Homo sapiens: one gene and its partners. The protein of the gene in region 1 purifies or fractionates together with the protein of each later gene. This does not show direct contact. Each region holds a gene or a part of one and is shown on either strand. Other genes may lie near its edges.

The links.
Region 2: the proteins of SLC22A10 (region 1) and CLPTM1 purify together in Homo sapiens (affinity purification with mass spectrometry; one large-scale study listed by BioGRID and IntAct). This does not show direct contact.
Region 3: the proteins of SLC22A10 (region 1) and TMEM59 purify together in Homo sapiens (affinity purification with mass spectrometry; one large-scale study listed by BioGRID and IntAct). This does not show direct contact.
Region 4: the proteins of SLC22A10 (region 1) and FADS2 purify together in Homo sapiens (affinity purification with mass spectrometry; one large-scale study listed by BioGRID and IntAct). This does not show direct contact.
Region 5: the proteins of SLC22A10 (region 1) and NGLY1 purify together in Homo sapiens (affinity purification with mass spectrometry; one large-scale study listed by BioGRID and IntAct). This does not show direct contact.
Region 6: the proteins of SLC22A10 (region 1) and UBAC2 purify together in Homo sapiens (affinity purification with mass spectrometry; one large-scale study listed by BioGRID and IntAct). This does not show direct contact.
Region 7: the proteins of SLC22A10 (region 1) and DNAJC16 purify together in Homo sapiens (affinity purification with mass spectrometry; one large-scale study listed by BioGRID and IntAct). This does not show direct contact.

Annotation. Positions count from the first base shown.
Region 1 is NC_000011.10:63,306,903-63,309,592, reverse strand, and holds part of SLC22A10 (solute carrier family 22 member 10), read right to left. Parts: intron 1-2,690.
Region 2 is NC_000019.10:44,989,880-44,993,379, reverse strand, and holds the end of CLPTM1 (putative lipid scramblase CLPTM1), read right to left. Parts: intron 2,986-3,500; coding exon 2,795-2,985; intron 2,531-2,794; coding exon 2,435-2,530; intron 2,143-2,434; coding exon 2,007-2,142; intron 1,148-2,006; coding exon 980-1,147; intron 770-979; coding exon 483-769; 3' UTR 39-482; downstream 1-38. UniProt on the Homo sapiens protein: Involved in GABAergic but not glutamatergic transmission. Binds and traps GABAA receptors in the endoplasmic reticulum (ER).
Region 3 is NC_000001.11:54,043,205-54,046,704, forward strand, and holds part of TMEM59 (transmembrane protein 59 isoform 2 precursor), read right to left. Parts: intron 2,583-3,500; coding exon 2,488-2,582; coding exon of another isoform or gene 2,440-2,487; exon of another isoform or gene 2,279-2,439; intron 322-2,278; coding exon 169-321; intron 1-168.
Region 4 is NC_000011.10:61,834,800-61,838,299, reverse strand, and holds part of FADS2 (acyl-CoA 6-desaturase), read right to left. Parts: intron 523-3,500; coding exon 412-522; intron 1-411. UniProt on the Homo sapiens protein: Involved in the biosynthesis of highly unsaturated fatty acids (HUFA) from the essential polyunsaturated fatty acids (PUFA) linoleic acid (LA) (18:2n-6) and alpha-linolenic acid (ALA) (18:3n-3) precursors, acting as a fatty acyl-coenzyme A (CoA) desaturase that introduces a cis double bond at carbon 6 of the fatty acyl chain.
Region 5 is NC_000003.12:25,762,944-25,766,443, forward strand, and holds part of NGLY1 (peptide-N(4)-(N-acetyl-beta-glucosaminyl)asparagine amidase), read right to left. Parts: intron 1,369-3,500; coding exon 1,123-1,368; intron 1-1,122. UniProt on the Homo sapiens protein: Specifically deglycosylates the denatured form of N-linked glycoproteins in the cytoplasm and assists their proteasome-mediated degradation. Cleaves the beta-aspartyl-glucosamine (GlcNAc) of the glycan and the amide side chain of Asn, converting Asn to Asp.
Region 6 is NC_000013.11:99,242,354-99,245,853, forward strand, and holds part of UBAC2 (ubiquitin-associated domain-containing protein 2 isoform 1 precursor), read left to right. Parts: intron 1-1,478; coding exon 1,479-1,598; intron 1,599-2,161; coding exon 2,162-2,271; intron 2,272-3,500. UniProt on the Homo sapiens protein: Restricts trafficking of FAF2 from the endoplasmic reticulum to lipid droplets.
Region 7 is NC_000001.11:15,557,848-15,561,347, reverse strand, and holds part of DNAJC16 (dnaJ homolog subfamily C member 16 isoform 1 precursor), read right to left. Parts: intron 1,823-3,500; coding exon 1,692-1,822; intron 1-1,691. UniProt on the Homo sapiens protein: Plays an important role in regulating the size of autophagosomes during the formation process.

The DNA of each region.
Region 1 (2,690 bases):
AGAGGTGTCTGGAATAGATTCTTCCCTACAGACTTCAGTGAGGTCAAGTCCTTTTCAATAAATTGATCTCAGACTTCTAGCTTCCAGAACTGTGAGACAATAAATTTCTTTTCTTAAGTGCCTAAGTTTGTGATATCTTGTTATGAAAGACATAAGAAGTGAATATGCTATTTTTATTATTTTAACATTATTTCTTGTCACCAATCAAATTAAACCCAAACAAGAATATCCCAAGAAAAATTATAATAAACTCTCAAAGAGCAGACAAATAGAGCGTCCTGAAAGCACCAAGAAAAAAAGAAGCAAATAATATATAAGGGAGATCCAATATGCCTGGAAGCAGACTTGTAGCTGAAAATGTGCAGGCCAGAAAGGATTGAGATGATATATGCAGAATGCTGAAGGAAAAAAAAAAAGACTGCTGTCCAAGAATACTCTACCCAGAAAAGCTATATTTCAGAAATGAGTTGAGATAAAAAGACTTTCCCAGGCAAAAAAAAAAAATGCTGAGGGAATTCATCACTATCTCCTACAAGAAATGCTAAATGGAGTTTTTTGAACTTAAAGAAAAGGGCATTAATGTGATTGTTACTCTAGTACTGTAATTGTGGCATGTAAACCACTTACTTATATCTTTAGTATGAAAACTAAAAAAAACCTATCAAAAATAATAACTACAATAATTTGTTAAGAGGTGGGCAAAATAAAAGTGTAAATCATGACAAAAATCAAAACGTGGAAGGAGAGTTGAATTGTACCAGATTATTCTGTTTCTTCTCTTTTCTTTGTGATCAGTGTCAAGTTGCTATCATTTAAAATAACTTGTTATAATTATATAATTTTGTATAAGCCTTGTGGTAACTGCAAAGCAAAAACCTATAATAGATATGCTAAAATTAAAACACAAAGAATCAAAATATACTACTAGAGAAAACCACAAATAAAAACTGTAAAAGTGAAAGCAGGGGAAAAAAATGTACAAAACAAGTAGAAAATCGGTAACAAAATGGCAGTGTTAAGCCCTTACCTATTAATAATTACCTTGAATGTAAATGGACTAAATTCTGCAATTAAAGACGTAGAATGATTGAATGGATTTTTTTTAACTTAATTATATGCTGCCTATAAGAGACTCATTTCAACTATAAGGACACACGTAGACTTGAATTGAACAAAAGGAAAAAGTATTTCATGCAAATGAAAACTAAAAAAGACTAGGAGTAGCTATGCTTATATCAGATAAAATAAACATTATGGTCTTGTTTCTTTTTGCAGTTTTTTTTTTTTTTTGCCAGAAACTGCAAAAAGAGATAAGACCATATATAATACTTAAGGGGTCAATACAGCAATAGGATAAAACAATTATAAATATATATGCCCCAACATCAGAGCACCTAAATATATGGAGCAAATATTAATAGACCTAAATGGAGTGATAGTCTGCATAAAATAATAATAGGAGACTTTCAGCAATGGACAGATCATCCAGATAGAAAATCAACAAAGAAATATTAAAATTAAATCACATCCTAGATCCAACATTTACAGAACATTTCATCCAACAGCTACACAAGACAAATTCTTCTCAGAAGCACACAGAACATTTTTCAGGTTAAATCCTATGTTAGGCCACAAAACAAAACTCAACAATTTTTTTTAAAATCAAAATAATTTCAAATATCTTTTCTGATCACAATGCAATAGAACTAGAAATTAGTAACAGAAAGAAAGAACTTTGGAAAACTTACAAATACATGGAAATTAAACAACATGCTCCTAAACAGTCATTGGGTGAATGAAGAAATAAAAACAAAATTTAAAAATTTCCTGAGACAAAAGAAAATGGAAACACAACATACCAAAACCTATGGGATACAGCAAAAGCCATTCTAAGAGGGAAGTTTATAGCATTAAATATCTACATCAAAAAAATTTAAAGATCTCAAATAAACAACCTGATATTAAACCTAAAGGAACTAGAAAAACAAAAACAAACTAAAACCAAAATTAGTAGAAGGAAATAATAAATATCAGAGCAAAAATAAATAAAAAAGACAAAAATACAAAAGATTAGGAAAATTTGTTTGTTTTTTGAAAAGACAAACAACATCAACAAGCCTTAGCCAGACTAAGAAAAAAGAGAGATGACTCAAATAAAATTAGAGATGGCAGAGGAGACATCACCACTGATATCACAAAAAGGATCCTTAGAGACTGTTATGAACAAATACAAACCAAAAAATTAAAAAACAGAAAAAAAAAACAAACAGAAAAATCCCTAGACACATACAAACCTACTAAGACTGAATCATGGAGAAGTAGAAAACCTCAACAGGCCAATAAAAAGATAAGGAAATTGAATCAATAATAAAAAGTCTCCCATTAAAGAAAAGCCCAGGACTTGATGCCTTCACAGGTGAATTCTACTAAACATTTAAAGAAGGAATTCTAAAATAGCAAAAATATACAAATGGAATTATATCAAACTAAAGAGGCTTTATGCCGCAAAGAAAACAATCAATGAAGTGAAGAGACAGCCTGCAGAGTGAAATAAAATATTCACAAACTACGCGTCTAACAAGGGACTAATAACTAAAACACAAGAGGAGCTCAAGAGTAAAAAACAAAGTGTGATTTGAAAATGGGCAAAAGATCTGAATAGACATTTCATAAAAGAAGACACATGAATG
Region 2 (3,500 bases), on another chromosome or scaffold:
CAACAGAGGAAGGAAGGCACGAGGAGGAGGGGCAGTGCTGAGTTTAAGTTAAACACCCATATGAATTTATTAAATCCAGACTGTGTTAAAGGGCGGCGGTCTAGGAGGGGGAGTGTGGTAGGGGGACGAGGGACAAGATGATGAACGGCCGTGGGCATCCCGTAGGGGGGCCCGGCCCCACCCCCGCCCAACCCACCCCCTCGGCAACGCTGCATCAGCTTCACCATGATTCCCAGTGGTGCTGGGCTGGCAGGGCGAGATGGCTGGAAACACAGAGGGACAGAGGGACAGACAGCGCCTCCACAAACAAACCCTGGCCTGCCCCGGCCCCTACATCACACGCTGGGCCCTGACCTGAGGCGGGCCTCCCACCGCCCCGGCCTGATCTGTCCAGGGAAAGGGCGACAGGGAGGGGAGGCGAGGGGGCCGGGACGCAGGGGTAGTGGTCGCCAGGAGCCGGAGCAGGTGAGGACCAGTCTCGACTAATCCTTTTTCTTGTCCTCTGCTGGCTTTGGAGGGGCTTCCTGGGGCTCGCTGGCAGAGCTGGCCCCCTGGGTGGGCTTGGTGGGCAGGGACGTGGAGGCCTCCTCCCTGGTGGCGGTGGTCGTGGTGGGTGCAGGTGTGGGCGTGAGGGCCCCTGCTGCTGTGGGAACCTCGGCCACGGGGGCGGCAGCTGTGGGGTCTTCTCCACTCATGCCAAACTCGTTGACTCGGGTGGGGTCGACGCGGTAGATCCACCGTTGGTAGAGGTAGATGAAGAAAACCACATCTGGAGAGGGGTGGGAGGCAGTGTGAGGTCGGGCTGGCCCGTCCACAGCCAGGTGGGCCTGGGTGGAGAGGGCGTGATGCAAGGGCGGGGCCGAGCCCCCTCAGACTGAGCACCCCATCTGGGGCCGTGGCACCCCCTCAGGCCTGGGCCCTAAAGACTGCCTCAGGGCCCTGTTCCGGTGGGAGCTCCCACCTGCCCACCGGGCCTCACCGTCCCGCAGGCAGCCGATCCGGTACATAACGGGCATCTTGATGACAAAGGCGAACAGGTCGTCGATGAATGTGTTGAGGGCCTTGTAGGTGAGCATGCGCCAGGGAAGGTGGGCCACAGACTTGAGCTTGTAGTTGATGAAGAGCTGGGGCGTCATGGTGATGAAGCCTGCAGTGAGAGCACCCATGAGCAGAGGGATGGCCTCTCCCACCTCTCCCCTGTGCACTCTGCACTGGCCATACCAGCCCCCTCACCACTTCCTACACCTGGGCACACTCTACCACTTCCTATACCTGGGCACACTCTACCAGCGGCCTCTGCACTGGTGGGGCCTTCTGTCACATCCGCACAGCTCTCTCCCTGGATATCTGAGGCCTCTGTTTAAATGTCCTGTCCTCAGAGGGGCCCCCGGACCCCTATTAATGTGCATCCTCCCACCACTCTGCCCTTCACAGTACTCACTATTGGCTGTGATTCACCCGGTCTTTTGTTTTTTGAGACAGGGTCTCACTCTGTCACCCAGGCTGGAGTGCAGTGGCGTAATCATGGCTCACTGCAGCTTCAACCTCCTGGACTCAAGGGATCCTCCCACCTCAGCCTCCCAGGTAGCTGGGACTACAGGCACGCACCACCACTCCCCAATAATTTCTGTGTTTTTTTGTAGAGATCGGGTCTTGCCAAGTTGCCCAGGCTGGTCACGAATTCCTGGGCTCAAGTGATCCTCCTGCCTCAGCCTCCCAAAGCATTGGGATAACAGGTGTGAGCCACTGCACCTGGCCCTACTTGTTTACTTGTTCCCAAGACACAAAGGCCCCCTGAGAATGAGGACTGAAGCGTACTGTTCATGTCCTCCCTGAAGTCCTCTCTGACCCCAGATGGGGCCATGTGTGCCCTCGGGCCTCCCTATATCCCAGCTCTGCCCACCCTAGGTTGTCCCTGTCTGGGGATGGGTCTGTCTCCTACACTGGGGCTGTGAGCCCTGCGCAGCATGGGGCCTGCTCTCTCCTGGGGCGGCCGGACCGCTCACCGAAGGTCAGCAGGAAGCCGTAGAGCATGCTGAGCACCCAGGAGTACCAGCCCTTGTGCTCCAGGTACAGAAGACTGTAGACGGCATAGCAGCCCAGGAGCGGGAAGAGGATCCAGGACAGGTACCGGAATGCCATCTGTGGGGCCACAGGGTGGGGCTGTCAGCCAGCTCCTCAGCCCTGCCTGGCAGCCCTGCTCCCCGCCCTCACCCACCACACCTGGTCTGGCAGGCCGGGCAGGGGGAATTTCCAGGTAGCCCTGGGGACTCCGGACTCGCCCAGGGAAGCAGTTATGGCAGATGGGGGACACAGAGGATGTGGCACAGGCTGTAAAGCATGGGTCCGGCAGACAGATGGCCGGCCCCGGGTGCCTCAGGGATACGTGGTACCTGGAGACCACCCCCAGGGGCCCACTGTGCAGGACACTCACATCATCATACACTTTGGTCGAGGACTCGATATACGTGGACTTGTCCTTGAAGGATAGGCGGGGGAAGATTCCTGCCACCCTGTGCTCTCGGTCCAGCTGTGGATGAGGTGGGTGCCATGGTCAGTTGCTACGCTGGCTCCCACCCCACAAGCCAGAACCAGCCCCTGCCCTTCCCCACCGTTCCCAGTTCCCCTGCCCCATGTGTGACCCAAAAAATCCCCTGGTGAGAAAATCCCCTCAGTCCTGGGAGTGAGGCACTTGCTGGGAATCCCCCGGGGGCCAGCTCCAGGGTCCAGCTGGGCCACACTACCCCCTCCCAACCCCTGCAGCTCCCGAGACAGCATGGCGCCCCAGCCTTACCCGGACGTCCATGACCTTGGTGATCTTCCAGAGGTCGATGAGGACCCCAATGAAGACGCTGACCTGGACCACGAAGTTGGTCTCGTTGTCCAGGATGTAGAGGAGGACCACGAATGACTGGAAAACGCCGAAGAAGACGGAGCGCACGGACAGGCCCTCCAGGGACTGCCGGCTGTTCCAGAACTGGATATCTGTGCGCAGGGGGTAGGGGGGAACCAGGAGGCTGAGGAGGTGCTGAGACCCTACTGCAGCTCCCTCAGGCCCCCTTGGCCTGCATCCTCACACCCTGGGGTGGGGCTGGGTCCTCAGGAGGGGTGCTGAACGAGACCCCTCTCTCCCAGGAAGGCTCTCATATTCATTGGGTGACCCCCAGAGCACCAGACAGGCGGCACCCCTGGAGCCCTCCCATAGGACGTCAGCACCCAGCACCCCAAGGTGCAGTCCCTTGACTGATGGTGACGGTGACTGGTGCCATGGACAGGGCTCACCACGTGCCAGGTGCTAAGGACTGGTCAGGGAAGCTGCTTCCCTGAGGCCAAACAGCCTGGCATGGCAGAATCTGAAGGGACGCGGGGTCTGTGCCACACCATGGTGCCAGCTCGCCCTCCCTGGGAAGGAAGATCTGTGGCATGCACTTCAAGACCACCTCCTCCAGGCCCCTGCCCTGACACCGGGAAGGAACTGGCTCACAGCCATGCTCAGGAAA
Region 3 (3,500 bases), on another chromosome or scaffold:
TAATAAAACTGATGTCTAATATTTTAATGTAGGGCCAAATAAGTAATTATTATTTGATGATAAATATTTGTAAGTGACTGAGTATGGTTCTATGCTGAAACACTCATTTAAGACATATACATTTACTGTTGTTAGTATTTAGATGAATCCATGAAGCTCAGTTGTCACCTGGAATATAACTATTTTTCCGTCATCGGCTTGAAGATAAAAAGTCCATGAAGAGGTTATGAAGCTCTGTGCGGAGTCCATCATGTCACTCCAGAATGACCTCACCAGAGTTAGAGGAAAGAGTAGGTGCATTTTTGGCATCAGGGACATAAGCTAAAAATAAAATAAATAATGAGAAATATATTATTTTTATATATGTATATTCAAAAGAACAATATAATCAAGATTACTCCAATCCTTATTGGGACAGGATACAAACAATTAAATACATCTACCATAATCAATAGCATTAGAGTAAACTCTTAGTTATCTATGCACATTATGGTAAAGCTTAAAAACCAAGGATACTTTAATTTGCCACCAAACACACTTACTAGCTACCTGTCACCTCTATCAGAATAACAGGCTTTTGAATTAAGTCCAAAAATAAGAAGACTCTTAAGATGTAATTAAATAAGGACCAGCAAGGCCTTAAGGGTAGAACGGGAAGGGACAAATCGTATCATTCTCATCTTTAATGCTTTCATCAAGAATAAATCATGCTATAATGAACATCAATGGAAAAGAGAACGGAAAAAATCAATCAGAAGAATATATACATAAAATGGTAGACATCTGACAACACGACAGGGTGAAGGGAGTATTTATGGGCTGAATATATGTAGTAAGCTACTGATAAGATTTTAATGGCCCAGCGTGGTGGCTCACACCGGTAATCCCAGCACTTTGGGAGGCTGAGGCGGGTGGATCACGAGGTCAAGAGATGGAGACCATCCTGGGCAACATGGTGAAACCCGATCTCTACTAAAAATACACAAAAATTAGCTAGGCGTGGTGGCGCACGCCTGTAGTCCCAGCTACTCAGGAGGCTGAGGCAGGAGAATCCCTTAAGCCAGGGAGGCAGAGGTTGCCGTGAGCCAAGATCATGCCACTGCACTCCAGCCTGGCGACAGAGCGAGACTCCATCACAAAAAAAAAAAAAAAAAAAGGATTTTGACAAATGATATCATCTTTCCTCCAATTCTGATTTCTTGACTTCTTTAGCAGCACTGGGCCTCTCTAAAGCACAAGTGTGGGATGCCATTTACTAAACTCTAGGGATAGCTTTGGTTCTGCTTTGTTTCTTTTTTCATCTGTTTTTTTTTTTTTTTTTTGAGACAGTGTCTCGCTCTGTCACCCAGGCTGGAGTGCAGTGGTATCTATGGTAGCACTTGGGCCCAGAAGCTTGAGGCCAGCCTGGGTAATATAGTGAGATCCTCATCTCTAAAAAACATAAAAATAAAAAATGCATATACCTCTTAACTCAGCAATTCTAGCCCTATGATTTTATTCTACAGGTATACTCACAAATGTGCAAAATAGGTATCATTTACAAAAGAAAAAGATTAGGAACAACCTACATGTTCACAAATAAGGGACTGCCTAAAAAATTATAATATATCTACACAGAATATTATGTAGTAGAAAAAAATTAGTAGAAGCTCTTTATGTATACTTATATTTACAAAATATATGTGTACATCCTTGTATACGCATAACATATCTATGCATTAGTAACCTTGGCTACATTCAAGAGGGAAAACTGAGTGGCTAAGAGACAGGAGTGGGAGACTTTTCACTATATGTATACTCTTTTTATCTTTTGAGTTTGTACATGTGACTATTTCCTGTGCAAAAATCAATAAAATTAAGAAACTTTTCCCAGTATGTCTGGAGAATAGAGTATGAAATTCCCTTGTCAGGAATTTTAAGAGATGGCATTGGAGCAGTAATCAGGAGTAGGTTGTGATAAACAGTTTGGACTTAAATCTATATGTAATTGGGAGCTACTGATTATATAAGACAGGAGAATGGCATGATGAAATTTAGAAAAAAAAATCTGGACACAGCAAAGGATGGAGTTAGACAGGGTTAAATTAGAAAAACAGTTTGGAAGTTAATTTAAAAATACAGACAAGAAATGATTATCTGAGTTAAGGCAATGGCAACTGTCCAATGGGAGTTGGGATGGAGAAAAAGAACTCTGAAATAATTCCTCTGAGCCTTGGTTTTTTCATATGTAAAATGAGGATAATATCTTCACTGGAATGTGAGAAGAAACAAAATAAGATTATGAACGTAAGCATAACTTTTAATAGTAAAGCATTATACAAAAGCAATTATTCAACTGACTTTTCTATTTGCAAACTAATTTTGTTTGCTGAAAGCCAAATATAAAATATAACACTAAAATAGGATCAAGTGGGTGATAAACACTTCAAGCAATACAAGTCAGTGCCATCTAAGCAGGCTAGTTTGAAAGGCAGTATTGTTTCGTACTTGTTCTTGTCTCAGTTCAGCGAATGGCAGCTGATTCTGGCAACCAAGATGGCAAGCATATTGCTCATCAGATTGGGAATATGCTTCTGTACATGCTGTAAGAGAAAAATAGTCAAATTACAAGAAACAAAAGAGAAAGGGAAAGAGGAAAGAAAAGGATTTGGCATTTTATTAAAAAAATTTTTATACTTAAAAAGGTTTCATCAATGTGAATTTCCAAATTTGGTAATATAGTAGTAGGAAATGTATCTTTAACAGAACTCCATATTGTCTCCCTCCTACAAGTCAAATGTTTTAGATACAAATCTATTAATTATACACCCAGGCTCTGGCCACATGATGACATTCATATAAGAGGATCCTTGTGTGGTGGAAAATGCACTGGATTGGCATCCTGAAGATGCCACTCAAAAAGGTTTAGTTCCATCATTTGTTGGTGTGTGTGACCTGAGCTGAGCAGTTTAACCTCTGACTATTGATTTCTATATGTGTAAAATAGAAATACCACAACCTATTGTATAGGGTTGAATGAAATAATATATTTTAATGATTTATACAAATATAAGGTATTATTGTTAAGAACCAGATCACTCAGTTAAGAAGTAAGGGTATGCACATGGCAAAAGAAAAATAAAACAATCAGCCTAACATCTGAAAGTCTAAGAAAATTGAACTAGAAAATGTTCTACAGCAGATAATTCTAATGTTGAAATGGGTCTCTACCAGATATACTCTCATTTAGTTCATTAAATCCATTTCCTTCTTGTGATATAACATTTTACCACTATCCTAATTTTATTTTTTCCCAACTCAGTAATGCATTTGTAATACACTTCTCAGAAGTGCTAGATAATAAACTGGACAGCATTATGCATATATAAAGATGATCAGTTAGGAGACTAAGCCGCAAAAATACGGTTATGATATCAAAGAAGACTGTATGTGAGCCATGGCATAGTGATAGGGGAAAAGGTGCCTCCTTCTACACTAATAAACAGTGTAACGAGTGGAGA
Region 4 (3,500 bases), 1.5 Mb from region 1:
TCTGACCTGCAGACAATGAACAGATGACCAGGGAATGGTCATTCTTTCTCAAAGAGGTGCCCCGGACCACACACCCCAAAGCCACTCTTGTCATCAAATGACATTTTTCGGTGTTTCTGTCCTGTCTTTCCCCTAGATTGTCATCTGGCACCTTCCTGGAAAGGGATGGAGGAGAAGGAAAATGAAACTGGCCAGGAGAGAGGAGACGCCACTAGTTGTTGTCAAACCCCGGCTCCCAGGGAGGCTCTGAGGCCCTCCCTGAACACAGGTGAACCACAGTGGCTCCTCCAGGACAAAAGCACCCCTGCCTCAGCCCCAGTTACTGGTCATGGGGCAAGGGGAGCCTCTCTCAGACTCCCAGCCACCCCCAGCCTCGTCTCCACCCCCACCCAGGTTGCAAGCCAGACTTACGTTCTTGCCGTGGTCCTGGCTGGGCTCCTCCGGGGCCAGTTCACCAATCAGCAGGGGTTTCAAGAACTTGCCCACGAATTCCAGGTCAGGGTGGAAGGCGCGGAAGGCATCCTGGAGAGCAGAGGGCAGTGATGAGGCTAAGACCTGAACTCTGTCTGCTCTTGGGCCCCAAGGAGGACAGTGCTCACCAGCAACAGCTCCATGTGTGCACCCAGACACCAAACGGGGTCTCCTGTGATCTGGCCCCAAATGCCGTCTCCAGCATTTTTCCAGGACAGAGCCCTCAGTGCCCAACGCCAATGGCAACAGCCACCTGGGCTTCTGTGCTGGTGCAGGCATGCTACACTCCCCAGGGGTTTGTGAATAGATGCATAGGCTGCCTTTGGGCAGGTCGGGAAATGGTGACCCTCCAGGAAGGCGCACCAGGCAGACACGGGGCTCAGGGAGGACTTGAGCCTCGACTGCTCGTGAGCTGAGTGCCTTGCATGGTGCACAAACCACACCACCCACCATCTCTTACTAGTTCCTCACCTACATGTCCAGGGTGGTCAATGAAAAGGACAAGACCGAATACTACCTTGGCACTGGAAATGTGCTGTGATGAAGTAAATAAAAAAATAAACACAGAATTATGTAAAAAGCGTTCCTGAAAAAAAGCCTAGGAGGATCTAGGCTATTATTGCACATGTTAAGGTAGCTGGATTATGCCTTGCTTTATTTTCATTACTTTCCAAACTCTAACACTGCTATAATGATACACATTTTAATCTTTTTTTCCCAATTATAAAGTAAAAACGTGCTGAGTTTTGGCCAAGTTAGAAAAGGCACAGCAGAATAAAGAGGAAAATAAATATCACCCAGAAAGTGGTCATTATTGCTAATATTTTAGCATTTTTCCTTCCAGCTTTTTTCTATACATATTATGCATATTACATGAATTATCTCATAAAAAATCTAGTATTTCTATTAGAGATGAGCCAGCACCAGGCTCCCCTGAGGGGATGCAATAGAATGTCCCAGTGGTGAACACTGTGTAATCTGCATCAAATCAAGCTTCCAGACATTGGTAGGATTGGCAAACCAGTCAAACTCCACCATGAGAAACAATCAGAAAAATCAATATAGCTGGGGAAAAACATACAAGTTTGTGGAAAAAACAAAAGTACGGAAGCATGGTCTAGATTAAAAGAGACTAAAATGATATAAAAACTGCAACTCTTGACTGGTCGCAGGGGCTCATGCCTGTAATCCCAGCACTTTGGGAGGCAGAGGCAGGAGGATCACTTGAGGCCAGGAGTTCAAGACCAGCCTGAGTAACATAGCAAGACCCCTGTCTCTACTAAGAATAAACAAAATTAGCCAGGCATGGTGGCCTGCACCAATAACTCCAGTTACTCGGGAGGCTGAGGCAGGAAGATACAATAAGCAATGATGGTGCCACTGCACTCCAGCCTGGGCAAGAGAGTGAGACCCTGTCTCAAAAAACAAACAGGCCGGGCACAGTGGCTCATGCCTGTAATCCCAGCACTTTGGGAAGCCGAGGCAGGGCGATCACCTGAAGTTAGGAGTTTGAGATCGGCCTGGGCAACATGGTGAAATCCCACCTCTACTGAAAATACAAAAATTAGCCAGGTGTAGCGGCGCACGCCTGTAATCCCAGCTGCTCAGGAGGCTGAGGCATGAGAATCCTTTGAAACCAGGAGGTGGAGGTTGCAGTGAGCCAAGATTGCACCACTGCACTCCAGCCTGGGCGACAGAGTGAGACTTTGACTCAAAAAACAAACAAACAAACAAACAAAACAACATCCTGCAATTCTTTAATGTGACAGGCTCTCACTTGAAGGAAAAAAGAAGTTATACCAGGTTTTTCGGGAGTTGAATGAGAAAAAATGAATATGGACCAGATATTTGATCATATCAAGGAATTACTATTAATTTTCTTAAATGTGACAAAGGTACTGTGATGATGTTAGAGCATCTCTTCCTTTTTTCTCCGGAAATGTTGAAGACCTTAGGGATGTGATCACACAATGACGCAGCTTATTTTCAAAAGGCAACTGCACACATATAAAGAGGAAAAACGCAAATGTGGCAAAATGTTAAGACTAGTGAATCTTGGTTGAGGATACACAGGTGTTTGCTTGTTCCTTCAACATTTAAGGATGTTGGGAAAATTTCAAAATTAAAAAGAAGAGGGGGCCGGGTGCGGTAATCCCAGCACTTTGGGAGGCCGAGGCGGCGGATTGCCTGAGGCCAGAAGTTTGAGATCAGACTGGCCAACATGGTGAAACCCCGTCTCTACTAAAAATACAAAAAAAAAAAAAAAAATTAGCCAGGTGTGGTGGCACACGCCCGTAATCCCAGCTACTTGGGAGGTTGAGGCAGGGAATTGCTTTAGCCAGGGAGGTGGAAGGTTGCAGTGAGCTGAGATCGTGCCACTGCATTCCAGCCTGGCGACAGAGCGAGACTCCATCTCAAAAAAAAAAAAAAAGGGTCGGGGGAAGGTGGAGAAAGTGCTAACCACTCCTGGAAATCTTTTCAGCCCCACACGTAAGGATCTCCCAAGGGTAACTGCCAGTCTCCCATCATCTCCTTACTGCATTGCTGGCATCAAGTCCTTTGCTTGGTCTTTGTTCTATTTGTGTCTAGAACAGACTGACAAAGCAACACTTCGTGCAGGAGAAAACTGGGCCCACGGTTTCTTAAAAAATGCCTGTGACCCACTAGCCGAGCCGAAAAGGGATGGTAGCAGAGGATCAGGTCAAGAGTATTTTCAGGGAAAAGAGACGTGCTATTCCAGGGCCCTGGGGAGGCAGGGAGAAGTCCCTGGGGAGGCAGGGAGAAGTCCCTGGGGAGGCAGGGAGGAGGCCCTGGGGGCAGGCAGGGAGGAGGGCTGGGGTGGGGGGGCAGGCAGGGAGGAGGCCCAGGGTGCGGGCAGGGAGGAGCCCAGGGTTGCAGTGGTGACCAGCTTTGCTGGCTCTGGGTGGGGTGATCAGTCCCCACCAGAGCCTCAGCCGCCTATGCAAAATGAGCAAGGCCCTGGGAGAGGCCCGGAGGAGCTGCCAAAGTCAGGGCCCAGGGCTGGGCCT
Region 5 (3,500 bases), on another chromosome or scaffold:
AACTCCGTCTCAAAAAGAAGAAAAAACAAAAATTAGCCAGGAGAGATGGTGCATGCCTTTATTTCCAGAAACTCAGGAGGCTGAGGCACGAGAATCACTTCAACCTGGGAGGCAGAGGTTGCAGTGAGCCAAGATTTTGCCACTGTACTACAGCCTGGACAGAATGAGACTCTGTCTCAAAAAAAGAAAAAAACAAAACAAAAGAAAAGAAGTTTAAACAAGATTAAGAAAATGTGAATGGCTTTCCTGAGCCAGGACACTAACAAAATACTACTTAGCCCAGGAAAGAGATATTTTGTAAAATAAAATGTTTGCAAGCTTTTTTGCAGATTGGTTAACTATGTGCATTTTAAACTATAATACTGCAATTAAAAAGATAAAGTAGGAAATCTTAAAAGATATATTCTAACACTGTAATTGGAAAACTCCTAAGAAAAGGTGTTAAAAACCAAGAAAGATGTTAAGTGAGCTTCTGTAACTGTACCAACCTTAACTGCAAAACTGATGAAGACCTAAGGTATTCAAAATGGAATGCACATGATCTCAGGGAGGGGCATAAAAATCCATTGAGGTGCTTGTTAGACTTACAGAAATATCACAAGAATTTTTCTGACAGTAAAAACTTAGGAGAAGAATATGTAAGGACCTTGGTCAAAAGAGATTTTTGTAAACAGGATAATTTCCTATCAAATGGAATCATTTCAGTTTATCAAGAATGCCTGTAAGTTTGACTTTAGTTCTTCACAAGTATATATGGTGTATATTAATAATAAAATTTCACTAATTTGCTAGCATCCACTATCATTAAATTAATGCATTCTTAATTACCTTAAACCTAAAGAAGCTTTTTTATTGAATTAAGGTATTGATAATGGTTGTGCTGTTGGAAATAACCCCCACAGTGAAAGGCAGCAGGTACAATTTAGATCAGAAGTATTAATGCAGTAGAGGAAATCTGACAATTTTTTAAAGAGCTGAAGAAATTTGGATGTTTTAGAGTTATAAGAACTAAGAACAAAATATGGGGCATAAATTCAGGAATAAATCATAACACATTCCAAAGCTTTTGCTGTTTCAACACTTTGAAAGAAACAGTTAAAGAAGGTTTAATTCTAACATTACCGTTGAAGCAGATGGTGGATCTGATGACTGCCCTTGACGGTTCCTTGTGTGCTGGTTTAACCCACTGGGATTTGAAGATGGTGTTGTAGGAAGCTGGGTACTGGCTGCAGGTTGCTGAGATGACTTTACTTTGTGGCTCTTATTTGAGCCATCCAGTCTGCTACTTCTCTCTATGGCAATCAGGTCACGAATTTTTTGCAGCTGCTCCACTGAAGCTTTTTTAGGAAAGATGAGATGTGTTTCTCCCTGGAATTTATAAAATTAAAAAAAATGTGAACCTTTGCTTTATGCAGTCATTCTTTTGTGCACACACACACAGAAATGTATAATGAAACCAATAATATAGAATGCATGTTTCTAAAATCATACTGTTTTCTTACCATTATGGTTCTTTTTAAATACAGCCTAAGGTAAATAATGCCTAAACATAAACCAGAAAATTAAAAAAAAAATTATCTCCTTTTTGGCATTTAATCCTTAGCCTATTTAATGTGGTTCAAAGGACTTTCAGGAAAAAATATTTGATCTTCTAGAAACAATAAGTCAGAAGGCCTCATAAGGGTTGCAAAAATGCATATTCCTATCCTCTCTGCAATAGTATATGATACTACTATTCTCTATGAAATTCCCTATGAAATAATAATGACAGTAGAGATACAGCCACACAAAAGAATCCAGGGTCACATAAAACCAACAAGAAGTTATCTAACAACCTTTGAATCTTGTTAATCTGAGTCTTTAAAGAATAGCTACATGATTAGAAGCCTGTGTATGGGGTCAACTAATTTTTCCACGATAACGAAAAGTACACCCTGATAGTCAATCCAAAACTATGGATGGTTAACAGTAATAGGAAGGTAATCCGAACAAAACAAAAGAAATAAAAATCATGTATTTCAGTAGTGACTCATTTAAAGAATACCTATAAATATGCTAAGAATGCTTTAAAATAAAATGCTACAACAAATTCTATAATGTAAAACAGTAAATTACTCAAAACAAGAAAAAAGGTGAAATGAAATGACAATGTATTTGATCAAATTTCCAGGTATTGAAAAGAAACAATGTTAAAAACAGTAATTTCTCCAACTGCAAACAAGATAAAAAGTTGCAGCTGGGCATGGTGGCTCACGCCTGTAATCCCAGCACTTTGGGAGGCTCACATGGGCAGATTACCTGAGGTCAGGGGTTCGAGACCAGCCTGGTCAACATGGCAAAACCCTGTCTCTACCAAAAATACAAAAATAAGCTGGGCATGGTGGCGGGTGCCTGTAATCCCAGCTACTTGGGAGGCTGAGGCAGGAGAATTGCTTGAACCTGGGAGGCAGAGGTGAGCTGAGATCGTGCCACTGCACTCCAGCCTAGGTGACAGAGCAGGACTCAGTCTCAAAAAAAAAAAAAAAAAAAAGTTGCAACAGTCTGTAGTACACAGACCTGCAGATCATGAGCATTTAAATTAAACTCCAAAATCGACAATATTACTGTATTTCCCTGGTGATGGCAGACCTACAGGAATCAACTGAACAAGACATTACTCAATGACATGAAAGTCAATTCCATCTGAATCCTTTTTAAAAAGCTGGATTAGACCAGCAAGCTCCACGTATGATTCATAATTGCTATAAAAAAGACAACTACAATGTATTGTCTTTGTGTGTTCTAAGTACTGTGCTAGGCATTTTTTTCTCTGAGGCAGGGTCTCCCTCTGTCACCCAGGCTGGAGTGCAGTGGAGTGATCAAAGCTATAACCTCAAACTCTTGGGCTCAAGCGATCTTCCATCCTCAGCCTCCCAGCAGCTAGGACTACAGGTGCATGCCACCACACCTGGATGATTTTTATTTTTTGGAGAGACAGGGGTCTCACTCTTTTGCCCAGGCTGGTCTCAAACTCCTAACCTCAAATGATCCTCCCACCTCAGCCTCCCAAAGCAAAATGCTGGGCGTTTTAAATACATCATCTCAAGTAATACAACTACCCTGAAAAGTAGGTATTAGATTAATACTTTTTTTTTTTTTGGAGACAGAGTTTTGCTCTTGTTGCCCAGTCTGGAGTGCAGTGGTGTGATCTCGGCTCACTGCAACCTCCACCTCCCAGGTTCAAGCAATTCTCCTGCCTCAGTCTCCCAAGTAGCTGGGATTACAGGCATGCGCCACCACACCTGGGTAATTTTTGTATTTTTTAGTAGAGACAGGATTTCACCACGTTGGTCAGGCTGGTCTCAAACTCCTGACTTCAGGTGATCCGCCCACCACAGCCTCCCAAAAAGCTGGGATTATAGGCGTGAGCCACCATTCCCGGCCAATACTCACATGAAAATACAAAGGCTCAGGGAAGTTAACCTGCTTGAAGCCACAGAACAACTGGCAGAGCAGGGATT
Region 6 (3,500 bases), on another chromosome or scaffold:
ACGGGGCGGCTGTCCGGGCAGAGGGGCTCCTCACTTCCCAGTAGGGGCGGCCGGGCAGAGGCGCCCCTCACCTCCCAGACGGGGCGGCTGGCCGGGCGGGGGGCTGACCCCCCCACCTCCCTCCCCGACGGGGCGGCTGGCCGGGCGGGGGGCTGCCCCCCCCACCTCCCTCCCGGACGGGGCGGCTGTCCGGGCAGAGGGGCTCCTCACTTCCCAGTAGGGGCGGCCGGGCAGAGGCGCCCCTCACCTCCCAGACGGGGTGGCTGGCCAGGCGGGGGGCTGACCCCCCCACCTCCCTCCCGGACGGGGCGGCTGGCCGGGCGGGGGGCTGACCCCCCCCACCTCCCTCCCCGACGGGGCGGCTGGCCTGGCCGGGGCTGACCCCCACCTCTCTCCCGGACGGGGTGGCTGCCGGGCGGAGACGCTCCTCACTTCCCAGACGGGGTGGCTGCCGGGCGGAGGGGCTCCTCACTTCTCAGACGGGGCGGCCGGGCAGAGACGCTCCTCACCTCCCAGACGGGGCGGCGGGGCAGAGGTGCTCCCCACATCTCAGACGATGGGCGGCCGGGTAGAGACGCTCCTCACTTCCTAGATGGGATGGCGGCCGGGAAGAGGCGCTCCTCACTTCCTAGATGGGATGGCGGCCGGGCAGAGACGCTCCTCACTTTCCAGACTGGGCAGCCAGCAAAATTTTAACTTTTATATCTGTTTTACCACAATAAAAATACAAAGAAAAGTTGGAATTAATATTTGTTTTACCTATCTCATAAGGTCATTGTGAAGGGGAAATAAGATTAGGATGTTTGAGATGTCATTGGGATTATCTTTAAAAATCTGAAAAATGTTTAAGCAGACTCAAAAATAGGCCTTTGAGTAGCTCTTTTTTTTTTTTTTTTTTTTTTGTATGTCCCCTTATATGTTTTTTATGCAGCCAGAAGTTGGGTGAAACAATGATTTAAATAAACTAATATTTCAAACCTAGTCATATTTAGCAGCAGTTGCCATAAATTACTTTGCATAGTTGCTATGAAGTAAGTTGATGATTAAAATTAAGCTCAGAAATGCATATTTTTGAGTTTATACCTAAGTTGTTTTTCAGTTACAACTTTGTCTTATTCAATAACATAAAAATGAACATTTGTTAGCCTTTCATTCTAGTTTACGTATATAATTTTAAAAAATCTTACTAAACGTGATCCTGAAATTTCTTATAGGCAGTTTTCTGTTATCTTAATGAGAATATGTTTTCTTATAAGCACAAAAAAATTCAAGTACCTTTCGTGCCACTGTTGGGAGGAATTTTTACTATGAGAGACTTGAGCTCAGAGAACATACATATATAGTTTTCCTTTGGTGTGTGCATTATGATTTTGTTTAGGACATTAAAAATAGGCAGTGTAAACATAACAAATTTGCTAAGGAAGAGACCCGAACAAATTTTACTCTTGTTTATTGTTCTTTTTTAAATCCCCATCTAGATTTGGAGGTTGATATGTGGAAGAATAATTTGCCTTGATTTGAAAGATACTTTCTGCAGTAGTCTGCTTATTTATAATTTTAGGATATTTGAAAGAAGATATGGAAGCAGAAAATTTGCAGTAAGTTTTTATGTATTTTGTCTTTGCTACTTAGGCTGTAGAAAAAAATTTTGTTTAAATGGATTTTATTTTGTTAAACTTGGTGTTGTTATTTACAGTTATCTTTTTAATTACACTATTCTGTATCTGATTTGAGGCACATGGACATTAACCAAAGAAAATTTTAAAATGTAAGACATTAGCATAATAATAATAGTGATAATGATAATATGTAGTATTAGTTGTGAACACTAATACAAATTTTAATACTTTGACTTTAATAAAATTATAATTTATTTTGCTTAGTGGTTTGTGTTTTACTTGTTAAAAATATATCTTCAACATACTTAAAAATTATGGCTGTTAATACATTTGAGCAATATGGGTTTACCCCGCCCATTTTCTAAAGTCTATTTTAATAAAAACAAATAATTTCAAATATATATACACACATATGCATGTGTGTATATACACACACACACATACATATGAATACACACCTCTGAGCTGATTCTAGCTGAATAAATGTTAGTTTATTTTTAGGAGACTCATCTCTATCATTTTTCTGCTGTTTTATTTTGTAGTCCTTTTTGCTGGGTTCCTGGGTTTTGTCAGCCTTATTTGACTTTCTCCTCATTGAAGCTATGCAGTATTTCTTTGGCATCACTGCAGCTAGTAATTTGCCTTCTGGATTGTAAGTAGCACTTAAAGATTGACTTAATTTAGAACTACTTGAATCTGATTTAAAGTGTTATTATTATTATGTGAAAGTCAGTAAAATAATATTTTAAACTTCTAGATATAGTTAAATTGATTTTATATGTAAAAAGTCTAATCTATGCCTACATTTTTATTATGTTCTTGAAATAGAATCAATTTTATATTCTTTCTTTAAAATTTATTTTACTTTTTTTTTTTTTGAGACGGAGTCTCGCTCTGTCACCCAGGCTGGAGTGCATTGGCACGATCTCGGCTCACTACAACCTCCGCCTCCCGGGTTCAAGCGATTCTCCTGCCTCAGCCTCCCAAGTAGCTGGGACTACAGGCACGTGCCACCATGCCTGGCTAATTTTTGTATTTTTTAGTAGAGACAGGGTTTCACCATGTTGGCCAGGCTGGTCTTGAACTCCTGACCTCAGGTGATCCACCCGCCTCGGCCTCCCAAAGTGCTTGAGCCACTGTGTGAGCCACCTTGCCCAGGCACCTTCTTTTTTTAGCTTTGAAAGTTTGTGTTTTAGAGAATTTTAAGTGAATTTCCTATTCTGATCCTGATAGAATTAGTTTTGTGTGTTTTTATAGTGAAATTTGTCTTTGTAATTTTATGAACTAAACACAAAAATATAGTTTAATTAGATTAGGAAACAAAATTAATTTGTACGAAGTTAAGCTTCTGAAGAATAATTTTTTAAAAGCTGATAATGTTTAAACACTTCCATCAAACATAAAACAAAGCCGGTGTATAGGTTATAACTTTGTAGACAACCTGCCGTGGCCAACCCCACTCAGAATTTGTATGCTTTCATATTGCGTTGATCTTCTTTAAAAAAAACAAAAACCATGTATTAGTGTGTGAAATAACTAGAATCTAGGAGTAGAGTTGACAGAACGAGACTCCATCTCAAACAAACAAACAAAAAAACAGGCCGGGCGCGGTGGCTCATGCCACCTTTGGGAGGCCGAGGTGGGCGGATCACGAGGTCAGGAGTTCAAGACCAGCCTGGTCAATATGGTGAAACCCCATCTCTACTAGAAATACAAAAATTAGTTGGGCGTGGTGGCACGTAGTCCCAGCTGCTCAGGAGGCTGAGGCAGAAGAATCACTTGAACCCGGGAGGCAGAGGTTGCAGTGAGCGGAGATCGCTCCACTGCACTTCAGCCTGGGTGACAGAGTGAGACTCCGCCTCAAAAAACAAACAAAATACC
Region 7 (3,500 bases), on another chromosome or scaffold:
TCAAATCTCTCTCAGGCCAGAGGCCACTGAGCCTCATTCTGAACGGCTTCCTTTGCAAGGTTCCAATGGAAAGTTTAGCTATTCATTCTCCCAAAAATATTTACTGAGCACTTAGTATATGTCAGGTAATATAGACAATATTATTGCCCTCATGGAGCTTATATTCCAGTGGGGAAGACAGAAAACAGATATATTATGACAGGTATCAACAAGTGCTATATATTAAAAAAAAAAAAAAAGATGAAAAGGGGACAGAGAGAGGCCAGAGTGGGTAGAAGCCAGGCTCCATCAGACAGGTTGGTCAGGGAAGTGCCAACTGAAAAGGTGACATTGTTATGACAGGAAATGGGGTCAGAGCATCCCAGGTAGAGAGACTACAAGTGCAAAGACCCCAGGATGGGGAGTGACTGGATCTGATTTGCATTTTCAAACATTATTGGCTGACGTGTGGACATCTGCCTGGAGGGTACAAGAGTGGAATGGAGCAGAGAGACTAGTTAGAAGGCTGCCAGGGGGGTCTCGCTGGGAGACGATGGTGGCTTGTTCCAGGGTGGCAGTGGTTAAAAAAAGTGAGAAGTGTGTGGATTTGGGATATTTTTTGAAGGCTGTGTAAACAACAATCCTTACAGTCCAGGATATTCTTTTTTTATATTTAAGTCATTTTTTTCTTCGCTCTTAAGACTATAAAGGAATCTGAAAAGCCTAGACACACAGGGAAATTATGTTTTATATTTTCAAGTTACATGATTGATATGTTTTCCTTCCATATCCAGATACCTTTTACAGATGAAACAGCCCTAAATTTAAAGCTACTGATTCATTCACCTGAGAAGGTGTAATGAATACATTCCCTGAATTTCTAGACTTTTTAGATACTTTGTATAATAACTCTTCCTACTTTATTGAATACATGTAACTTAGCCTTCCCGATTCCCACCAATCCATTTCCTCAATACTCTGTACTTCCCTACTGTTTAATTGTTATCCTTGCTCCTTCCCAAGACCTCCAAAGACTCACCCTGTGTGGAATGCTTTAGTAGGGACAGTCACTCTTCCATATTCTGTGCTTCTGTAAAGTGACCCAGTCTATCCCAGACGCCTGGCTAAACTGTGCTCATCCTTCAGGTCTCAGCTGAAATGTTACATCTTAGGGAAATCTTCTCTGACCACTAGGACAGGCTGGCACATCTGACAATTTGGTGCTAAAGTGCCCTGGACTAATACATCATATTAGTATGATTACCATCACAGTCACTAATCAGTGTTTTTTTTTTTTTTTTTTTTGAGACAGAGTTTCACTCTTGTTGCCCAGGCTGGAGTGCAATGGCATGATCTCGGCTCACCGCAACCTCTGCCTCCCAGGTTCAAGTGATTCTCCTGCCTCAGCCTCCCTAGTAGCTGGGATTACAGGCATAAGCCACCATGCCCGGCTAATTTTGTATTTTTAGTAGAGATGGGGTTTCTCCATGTTGGTCAGGCTGGTCTTGAACTCCGGACCTCAGATGATCCGCCCTCCTCGGCCTCCCAAAGTGCTGGGATTACAGGCATGAGCCACCATGCCCGGCCCAGTATTTGTTAAATGAAGAATAAGTTCTCAATGTTACAGGGCAGATGTCTAGTCACCCTATAGTAAAATGAATCATGATCCTTCTATTGTAATAACAAGCAGAGGCAAAGCCTTAAGTCCTTACTTCCTCTGTCGATGCGACCGTTTCACAGGGCAGAGTTCATGGAACAACTTCTGGCTGGTGAGCCTGGCTGCCAATAGATATTTGTTTCGGGTGATGAAGTCGTCAATGATTTGCTTCTTCATACCTCGGGCCTAGAGAAAAACCAAGAATCAGCTAGATTTTATGCAGTGTTCTCAATGCAAATAGATGGGCTTTCTTTACTTACCAGCTTAATAAAAACGTAGCTGACCTTGGCTAAAGTAATATAACCAAACAAGACAGACCTGTTTGAGCGAATAAACATGTGGTGATCTATTTCAGCAATGCAGGGCTGAAAGCAATGATGCAGCTATTTCGGGTCAAAGGGAAAATCAAGTACACTTTCCACTGGAGAATTTTTATTCACTGTTTTATGCTGACAAATTAAAAAAGTCAGTCATGGCCGGACGTGGTGGCTCACATCTGAAATCCTAGAACTTTGGGAGGCTGAGGTGGGTAGATCACGAGGTCAGGAGTTTGAGACCAGCCTGGCCAACATAGTGAAACCCCGTCTCTGCTAAAAATACAGAAATTAGCCAGGCATGGTGACGTGTGTCTGTAGTCCCAGCTACTTGGAAGGCTGAGGCAAGAGAATCAGTTGAACCTGGGAGACGGAGGTTGCAGTGAGCCGAGATCACGCCACTGCACTTTAGCCTGGGCGACAGAGCGAGACTCCATCTCAAAAACAAAACAAAACCAAACACAAAACAAAACAAAAACCCAAAACGAAAAGTCAATCATTTTGAATTTTAGGCAAAATTATTTCCATTCAGGATTTGTAGCGAACTGGGCAATTAAAAATAAATCCCAAAGCAACAATGTTGCAAAGTATAAAAGGCAGGTTACAAAACCGTGTGACCATTTTATTGCTAACTTTCACACATTTCAAAGGATTGAAATCATTGACAGCAGGTATTCTGACCACAAGGTAATTAACCTAGAATTCCATTTAAAATGCAAACCAGAAATGTAAACATTTCCCTTTATGTTTGGAAATTAAGAAACACGGCCAGGTATGGAGGCTCATTCCTCTAACCCAAATGCTTTGGGAGGCCAAGGCAAGAGGATCCCTTGAACCCAAGAGTTAGAGACCAGCCTGTGCAACATGGAGAGATCCCATCTCTACAAAAAATTAAAAACAAACAAACAAAAGGCCAGGCACAGTGGCTCACTCCTATAATCCCCGAACTTTGGGAGGCCGAAGCAGGAGGATTGCTTGAGCTTAGAAGATCGAGACCAGCCTGGGCAACATAATGAGATCTTGTCTCTACTAAAAATAAAAAAACATTAGCCAGGCATGATGGTGGTGCATGCCTGCAATCCCAGCTACCTGGGAGGTGGAGGTGGGAGGACTGCTTGAGCCCAAGACTTAAGAGACTGCAGTGAGCTAGGATCACACCACTGGACTCTAGCCTGTGTGACAGACTGAGACCCTGTCTCAAGAAAAAAAAAAAAAAAAAAAAAAAAGGGCTGGGTATGGTGGCTCATGCCTGTAATCCCAGCACTTTGGGAAGTCAAGGCAGGTGGATCACTTGAGGTCAGGAGTTCAAGACCAGCCTGTGCAACATAGTGAAACCCTGTCTCTACTAAAAGTACAAAAATTAGCCAGGCGTGGCCTTAGTCCCAGCTACTCAGGAGGCTGAGGCAGGAGGACTGCTTGAGGCTGGGAGAGCATACCAGCCTGGGCAACGGGAGTGAAACCCTGTCTCATAAAAGAAAAAAAAGGAAAAAAAAAGTTGTTAGCTGGGCATGGTGGCATGTGCCTGTAGTCCCAGCTACTTGGGAGGTTGA